2 separate regions of the Homo sapiens genome follow, and region 2 is reported to be linked to region 1. Evidence: microRNA targets listed by miRTarBase, many of them from high-throughput screens and not tested one by one. Region 1 holds a microRNA gene; the other region holds the end of a gene's coding sequence.
Evidence for each region. The annotated mature microRNA hsa-miR-4774-5p reads UCUGGUAUGUAGUAGGUAAUAA and lies in region 1 at 2,588-2,609, shown strand. An mRNA with a match to its seed (bases 2 to 7 or 8) in the 3' UTR can be bound and repressed. Matches are read on the target gene's strand: a 7mer-m8 pairs with bases 2 to 8, a 7mer-A1 pairs with bases 2 to 7 and ends in A, and an 8mer does both.

Region 2: miRTarBase lists DESI1 as a target of hsa-miR-4774-5p. Seed matches in the 3' UTR shown: 7mer-A1 at 3,385-3,391.

What each region holds. Positions count from the first base shown.
Region 1 is chr2:168,580,366-168,584,365 of GRCh38, forward strand. MIR4774 (microRNA 4774) reads left to right here and starts at 2,578; the gene lies at 2,578-2,653. All of the region lies in intron 3 of CERS6 (ceramide synthase 6), which reads left to right.
Region 2 is chr22:41,597,645-41,602,172 of GRCh38, forward strand. It overlaps DESI1 (desumoylating isopeptidase 1), which reads right to left. Exons shown (of 6, transcript NM_015704.3): 6 at 384-3,546. The coding sequence ends at 3,453. Among named protein-coding and RNA genes, the nearest start is that of PMM1, 10 kb to the left of the region's middle.

The DNA.
Region 1 (4,000 bases):
TATTTTGGTGGTTATCCTAGAAATTACAACGGGTATACCTAAGTTATCAAAATCCAATGTTGACCCCTCTTTTACCCTCCTAGAAAATCCAAGGTGTTTAGAGTATTTTATTTCCATGTTCCCTCTTCTGACTTAAGTTACTTTTGTCATGCCTTTTATTCTGTATTTTTAATCTTAGAGACATTATTAACCTTAAACAACAGAGACAATTTTTTAAAGATTTGCACACATATTTACCACTTTTTTTGTTTTTAATTCATTTTTGTACCCAGACCTTCCATTTGGAATCACTTTAATTTTTGTCTGAAGATCCTTGAGGCCTGCTAGAGATGAAATCTCTTGGTTTTTGTTGTCTGAAAATGAGTTTATTTCTTCCTCATTCTTGAAGATTTTTTCTCTGAGTATAGAATTCTAGTCTAGCAGTTATTTCCTTTCAGTATAATGATTATATCATCGCACTGTCTTCTTGCTTACATGCTTGCCACAGAGAAGCCATAGTCACTCTGTCATTCCTTTGAAGATAATGCCCTTTTTATCCCTGTAGGCTTCAAGATTTTCCCCTTAGTCTTTGTCTTTCTGTATTGCAATTAAAAATATATGTATTCCTCTCGAGATTCTCTGGGCCTTCTTAAATCTATGAATCTATGGATTGCTATCTTTTTTTTTTTTTTGAGATGGAGTCTTACTCTGTCACCCAGGCTGGAGTGCAGTGGTGCAATCTTGGCTCACTGCAACCTCTGCCTCCCAGGCTCAAGCAATTCTCCTGCCTCAGCTTCCCAAGTAGCTGGGATTACAGGTGAGTGCCACTACACCTGGCTAACTTTTATATTTTTAGTAGAGACAGTGTTTCACCATGTTGGTCATGCTGGTCTTGAACTGCTGACCTGTAGTGATCCACCTGCTTTGGCCTCCCAAAGTGCTGGGATTACAGGCGTGAGCCACCATGCCTGGCCCAATTGCTATCTTTATCAGTTCTGGAAAATTCTCAGTCATTACTTCTTTAAATATTGCTGCTTCTCTACTCTCACTATTTTCGTTTTCTGTAATTACAGTTAAATGTATTTTAGATCCTCTCACTACCCTCATGAGTTCTAACTTCCCTTCCATGTTGTTCATTGTTTCTGTTTCTCTGGCCATATGTTAGATGTCATCTGACATATCTTTCAAATCACTAATTCCCTTTTAACTATTTCTGTTTATTATCTTCTCCTTCTAGTTTTTAGTTTGGTTAATATATATTTTTATTTATAAAAGTTCTGTTTCATCTTTTAAAAACCTGCTTGTTCAGTTTTCATAGTTTCCTGTTCTTTGCAGATACTTTTTATGTGGTCTTTTATTTTTTTACATAGGGGAAGCATAGTTGTTTTACAATCTGTATTTGACAGTTCCAGTATTTGCGGGTGTGTTTCTGATTCTGATTCATGGAACCTGTTTTTCCTTGTGTGCTTAATTGTGTACTACTCTTTGTTCTTAGGAAATATTAAGGAGGGAGAATCTTGAGGCCTAGGAAGATGATGATTCTCTCAGAGAGTTTATGCTTATGCTCCTGTCCGGCATGGACGATACCCCAGCCCAGGATCACCCCAGACCAAGCACATGACTTACCATGACTCCCAGGCCCACCTGGGCTAACTCCCCATGACCGTAACCACCTTGGTCATGATCACAGTTGTGGGTCTCTTACCACAACTTCTCATGGTGTTATTTTCCTTTCCCTTTTTCTCTTCTTCTGCTTAGTGTCAAGGCAACCATCCCTGAAGTTTCCCAGAATTGGGGGTAGAGGTAGGGTTTATGTATGGCACACACTCATCCTATGGATGTTATATCTTGGGGTCCCAGCTTAATATGCGCAGTGTCTTCTATAATATCCTCCACATTAGGTAGGCACTGGGCCTAGATTCTTCCCCCTTTCCTCCAGGGGCTGCCAAAACAGAAACCCAGATTAACTCATGGTGGAGATGCCTTTGGGCCAGAAGGAGCTGTGGTGTTCTACTTAGGTCTCTGGGTTCCTAGTTTCCCTTAGATTTTTATCCTGAGAGCTTCTTACTATCTTGTCACCTCTGATGCTTTTAAGGATATTTTTTAAGTTGAGAAGTTTAGTTGTTTTAAATAGAGAGCAAGGGGTTTGTCTGACTAGCCTAGCCTGCTGTGTCTGGGAAAGGAAGTATTAATAAGACCTTAAATCATTTAATAACTATCATCTAGTACTGAAAAAAAAACGCGTGCTATGCAAACATAAGGTTTCAAATGTGGTCAGTCAGGATTTTGAAAACTAGAATTTTCATACACCTTTATTTTACGTGATGCATTATTTTAATATTGATGTGAAGTTAAACAAGGTCAGTTTGACCTTGTGTCCAGTGCAATTCCCAAATTTGACTGCTGCAGTTTACTGAAATTGCATACATACAACAGCTTTAGGTGCCTGGATTCACAGTGAGCTAGTGAAATAGCTGGTGATTTCATAGTGAGCCAGTGAAATAGCCATCCTTCCCAAGCACCCACAGTGTACAGTTATGGTATAGAGGGGCCTTGATGGGCATGGCCTTTGAAAGACATGAAAGCTATAGATTAGCCTATATTGTTGTCTGGTATGTAGTAGGTAATAACTGACAAACAGACAATTGCCTAACATGTGCCAGAAAACAACATAGGCAAGGCTTGCAGTTACAAAATAATGCATAGACAAATGTACATTTAATCAAATTTGGCTGGCTTGAGGGAATGGTTGATATACACAGCACAGACTGATCAATTTGGTAGTGTTAAGCAGAAAATCGCTCTTATAGGACAAGAATCTTGTAAAATTTTGAACCTTAGAAATATGCACTAATGACAGTGTGGTGTAGGAATAGATAGTGATGGGGAGGGCGTCGAGACAGGTACAAATAAGTAGTGTGTGTTGATTGACGGGCATGTCCTTTTGGCAAAGAGAGACTCCACCAAGAAAGTGATTGGGAAATGAGCTAAGAAAAGTGTGAGAGAAGAAGACACTTCAGTTCTGACATTCAAGAAACAGCCCCACTCTGATTTGGATAGGGGCAAAGCCTAACTATAGATCATTTTTCAGCCAACTACAGAATCTTTTTAGCTTTCCTTGCTTCTTTTTCATTTGCTTTCTCTTTCGAATTTGAGGAGTAGATTGCAGTTTAACCACATGCTATGAGCTCAGGCCTCTTGGGTGGCCTCCCTGGGTCTTAGACCAAACCAGTCATTAGGCTTTTAGAGAATAATTTTAAAATGCCATCCCTTAATATTGTCAGGGTTGTTTGAACTATGAGAAGAAGATAATGAGCATGAAGCAGGACCTTTAGAGGACTAGGTTGTCTGGAGTTTGTAGTTAGTTGAAAGGCTACAGGGTCCATTTATTCCTGTAATTTTATTTGCCTTCCTGCTCTGATGTATCATTATTTGTCATCCATGGATATGGAATTCATTCTATCATTCAATAAAATGAATGCTGACTCTGTGCTGGCTGCTTTTCGAGGCCTTGTGAATATTCTCTGTTTGGCGATTATTGTAATGGCCTTTTGCCATCATGACCTGGCCTTTTGCCATCATGACAGCATCTGACATGTACTGACATGTACTGAATACTTAGAATGTACCAAGATCGCTTCCTTAGTCATCTTATTTAATCCTTCCAACACTCTCATTGGGTAGATGATTTTACCCTAATTTTCAAAAGGTTAAGCAGTTTACCCACGATAGGTAGTGAGAGTCAGGATCTGTGTGTGACTGGCCCTAATGCCTATGCTTCCTAAGTAATTTCCTAAGTAATCAAAGCTGCTTTTAAGATTAACTTTCTCCAAAGATGCAGGTATTGCTCATTCCTTTTTTATAGCTGAGTCACAGACATAATGAATACTGCCAGTGAGCTGCAGTGAAACTGTATCTTTAAAAGAAAAATGTTTTTTAGGTTTCTCAATTCCCATGTTTTTGCTGTTTGCGTGATACCCCTCTGTGGAAATTAACAAACCTTTTGCTGTTGGTTTTTCAG
Region 2 (4,528 bases), not on the chromosome of region 1:
CTACAGCCTGTCTGGGCATGAGGAGCCACAGACCCAACCTAGAGCCAAGTTGAAAGTAGAAGTGAACACTTTTCGGTGAGGTCAGACACTCCTGATAGCTAGAGGAAGACTACAGAATTTGAAGTTATCAGACAAAGCATTGAGCTGCACCAGCTGCAAGGTGACCTTGGGCAAGTGATATTCTCTCTGGGCCCTTCCCCCATCTTTATAAACCAGTGGTGAAATTCAGACATCCTTCCCTGTTATCACTTCTTATCTACAGGCTCACAACCATGCAAAGGAGACACATCCAGACCCCGCAGACTTAAGCTCCAAGGGACCCAAAAGCCTGGGGTCGCTTCATGTTGGATGCATGTGCAGACCTGATTCAGGCACCACACAAATGCAGCAGGCAGAAATGAGTTTATTGCATTAGAAAAAACACCGAAGAAAACCAGCAAACACCTCCGTACTAGACAGTTATTAGTTTGACTCAAGGGCATAAAGAAAACTCAGATACTAGATTTACTTCTGGGAGGGGGTGATGGTCTCATCCCTCCTCCTTCCCTATCCCTTTAAACCAATGGACCTCTAGAGGTGTCCACTGTGCAATACAAGTACGTGACTCATTTCCCACTGTGCTTGCCTGTTCACATCCAGGCGGAGTTAGCCGGCCACAATGAGAATGCTCCTGAGGTGCTGGGACAGACAGAAATATGAGGATGGGGGTAGGCAGTTGAAGCCTGAGCCTGAGTTTACAGTTAGTGACAGTGGGGCTCCCATTGGGAGGGAGAGCTTGCCTTCCCATGGAGCTCTGGGAAAACTGCTCAGTGATCCCTCGCTCTCTCCCCACAAACCCTAGGGCACAGGCAATGGCACAAATGGCTGCTAGTATAAAGGGGGGTGCTGTTCAAGGAAATGAGTGACTCAAATTCTCTCAGGGGAGCTGCTCCTGGGCCTAAGGGTGCCTGCTGGAAGAAGCAAACCAGCTGAAACTGGATCTGGAAGAGGAGAAAGGAAAAAAAGGAGCTGTGATGCCCAGAACCCCCTGGATGGAGGGGAGACCCCAGGCAGAGGGGTCTGGAGCAGGACCCTGGAAGACAGAGCCGGGCCAGGCAAGCTGGAAAAGGGAACAACACTGGTGGGAAACAGAGCACTGGCCAAGACCAACCTGCTACCCTCCCAGAAGAAACCCAGCCTCAGAAATTCTTTCTCTTTGGGCCCAATTCTGCTAGTAGATCACGATTATACAACAGTCCCTGCTAGTTTCTGCTCTAATCTATTATTTCCATGCACACTGGCAAATCAGTGGGTCTTGAGAAGAATTAAACTTTCAATCATTTGGCCTCTACAAGTTCCCAAATGTCACTTGACATCCCAGCTGGTCATGCCCCTGGTCAGGTCGCAGGCAAACACTAAGGCAGAATGACAGCTCCTCTAGCTGAGACTCTGATGATGCCAAACTGTGATGGCTGATGGCAAAGATAGCAGCAGATGGGGCCAGAAATGAGCAGCAGCTTTTTGGAGAGGAAAGGCCTGTGCTGCAGGCCAGACTTCCAGGAAGAAGCAACATAATTCAAGTCCGTGAAGTGGCAAGAAGTTGTGGCAGAAGGGGCCCAAGGATGTCAGACCTGAGACTCGGGTACCTGGCAGCTCTGAGTCCCTTCTTCATGCTCACTTTCCCAAAATCTAACTAATGGAGGTTCATGTGAAGAGAGGGAATCTGAAAGTCTCTCTGGATTAGAGACTCCCAGACTGTTCCCTGCCTATAACCTCCTAGCAGCAAGTCATTAGGAAAATGCCCACTCATGCCCCAACCTGCCTTTCTAAAGTCAGAATGACAATGGAAATAACGTGTGCCTTCAAAACACATTTAGGATAAGGGAAAGTCCCTATCAGAAACGATTCTAAATTTTCTTGCCACCTTGATTCCACTTCATTATTTTATTTTTTTGAGATGGAGTCTCACTCTGTCGCCCAGGCTGGAGTGCACTGGTACGATCTCGGCTCATCGCAATCTCTGCCTCCCGGGTTCAAGCGATTCTCCTGCCTCAGCCTCCCGAGTAGCTGGGACTACAGGCATGCGCCACCATGCCCGGCTAATTTTGTATTTTTAGTAGAGACGGGGTTTCACCATGTTGGCCAGGCTGGTCTTGAAGTCCTGACCTCAAGTGATCTGCCTGCCTCGGCCTCCCAAAGTGCTGGGATTACAGGCGTGAGCCACCGCGCCAGGCCTCACATCATTATTCTTTCCATATCAAAGGTATTTTCTGGCCAGGCAGCGGTGGCTCACGCCTGTAATCCCAGCACTTTGGGAGGCCAAGGGAGGTGGATCACCCGAGGTCAGGAGTTCCAGACCAGCCTGGCCAACATGGCAAAACCCTGTCTCTACTGAAAATACAAAAATTAGCCTGGCGTGGTGGCACGCACCTGTAATCCCAGCTACTCAGGAGGCTGAGGCAGGAGAACCACTTGAACCCGGGAGGCAGAGGTTTCTGTGAGCCGAGATCATGCCACTGCACACCAGCCTGGGTGGTAGAGCGAGACTCCGTCTCAAAAAATAATAATAATTAAAATAAAGGTATTTTCTTAGAGTAGGGAATCCCATCCCTTGGTCCCCAGCTAAATACTGCGTACTGGCCTGGATGGTGGTTACAGAGACTGCAAATAACCTACATCATTACTTGCAGAAAAAAGGCCTTGGCTTCTACTGCTCCAGCCCAGACCTCATCCACTATGACAAGTCAGCTATGCTGAGGAAAGGCAGCCTCGGGGGCACAAAGGCAGGTTTCCCAAAATTGATGGCAGAAGATTGGCAATCCATCTAGGTGGAAGGAGGAATGGCTTTATCCTGTTTTCTCCGGCCTGATACTTGCTGTTACTCCCTTGATCCGGAGGCAATGGCTGCTCCAGCACTGGCCTTGCTTGGGGTAAGGGAGGGAAGGTGAGGGTTGTGGCTAAAGAGTTCACTTAGGTTAGGTTAGTCATCCTGAAACCGGTCCCATGTACACCAAATCCTTTGGTTCATTTAACACTAGAGTAACTTTCTGGGTCACGGATGTTCTAAAACTCACCTGGGTCCCACAGGTGTTGGCAACTTGGGTAGAGCGTGAGTGTTCTCTGGAAAGAGTTCTAGGTTGGGGCTCCCGCAAACTGTGACTCGCTTTCTGTTTAAACAAAGCCCCTCCCTTTCTCCAGTGTGGAGGACGCTTAGGAAACAGCATCCGAAGTGAACGCACAGACAAGACAGCCTTAATAAATTAGTATAATACTATTAGAAGGGGTGGCATTTTGTTCTGTTTCTTAGCAGCATTGTCTACATGCGGCCTGACGGTCTCCTTCCCTGGGAAATTTAAAAAGCCGTCCCCTGGTTGTTAGCTCTGATGTAAAATTATAAAATAGAAATCTGGTAGGGTTTGTTTTGTTTAAAAAGGAAAAGCCCTGGTGAGGCAGGGCGGTCCCAGGCAGTCCTGTTAGCTCTGGCCGTTGGGTCTGCCCACGGAGCTCCCTCCTGGAGGCTGGATCTGAATGGAGTCCAGGAGGGGCCGAAGTGCCTGTCCAAAGGGCCTGCAAGGAAACAGAGACATGAGAGGGGTGGGCTCTGGGATGTGGCCTGCTGTCACACACCCTGTGCTGCCCACGGGTAGGGAGGAGGAGTGGGCGCTGGTGGCAGCAGAAGCAGCACCAGCAGAGAAGGAAAGAGCACCTCGTCACCTCACTTAAGTTTCCCACCTGCCTCACACACCAGTGTTCTTGGAGGGCATCTCCGAAATAGCCTGCTCTGTATTTTTATTCCTGGGGTTCCCTCCTCAGGGCCTCACCTCTAGAGCCTGGTTAGCTGTGGTTTGAGTAGGCTGGCTACATACAGAGAACTAGAACTTTCTGTGCTCTATGTGCTTGTGTCTTTAATTCTTGTGAGCAAGGAAAAGATCAAATTTAAGCAGGGAAACTGAGGCAAAAGAAGAAGGATATGAAAAAGAAGACAAAGGGGTGAGGACAGCAAACAACTGGATTTTTTTCAGGAACAGAGGTCTGCCAGGGAGTACAGGGAATATTCTGGAAAAATGACAAATGCTAGGTTGCCAGTATTAATGCCTTTCTTTCACCCCGAGACAGAGTCTACCTCTAGCCTAGAGCTGGAGTGCAATGGCGTGATCTCGGCTCACTGCAACCTCTGCCTCCCAGGTTCAAGCAATTCTCCTGCCTCAGCCTCCCAAGTAGCTGGGATTACAGGCGTGTGCCACTGCGCCTGGCTAATTTTTTATTTTCAGTAGAGATGGGGTTTCACCATGTTGGCCAGGCTGGTCTCGAACTCCTGACCTAGTGATTTGCCTGCCTCGGCCTCCCAAAGTGCTGGGATTACAGGCATAAGCCACTGGGCCCAGCCATTAATGCCTTTCTAAAGGGCTCCTAGGTTGCTCTCATAGTAACAGATGGAAAAAAAACTACAAATACTGGAGTTTGGAGATTTTCCATGATTACGACAACCATAAATAAGGTTGCCCAGAAACTTTTAAGTCACTGGCTTTTTCTTCAGTGGATACTGCCA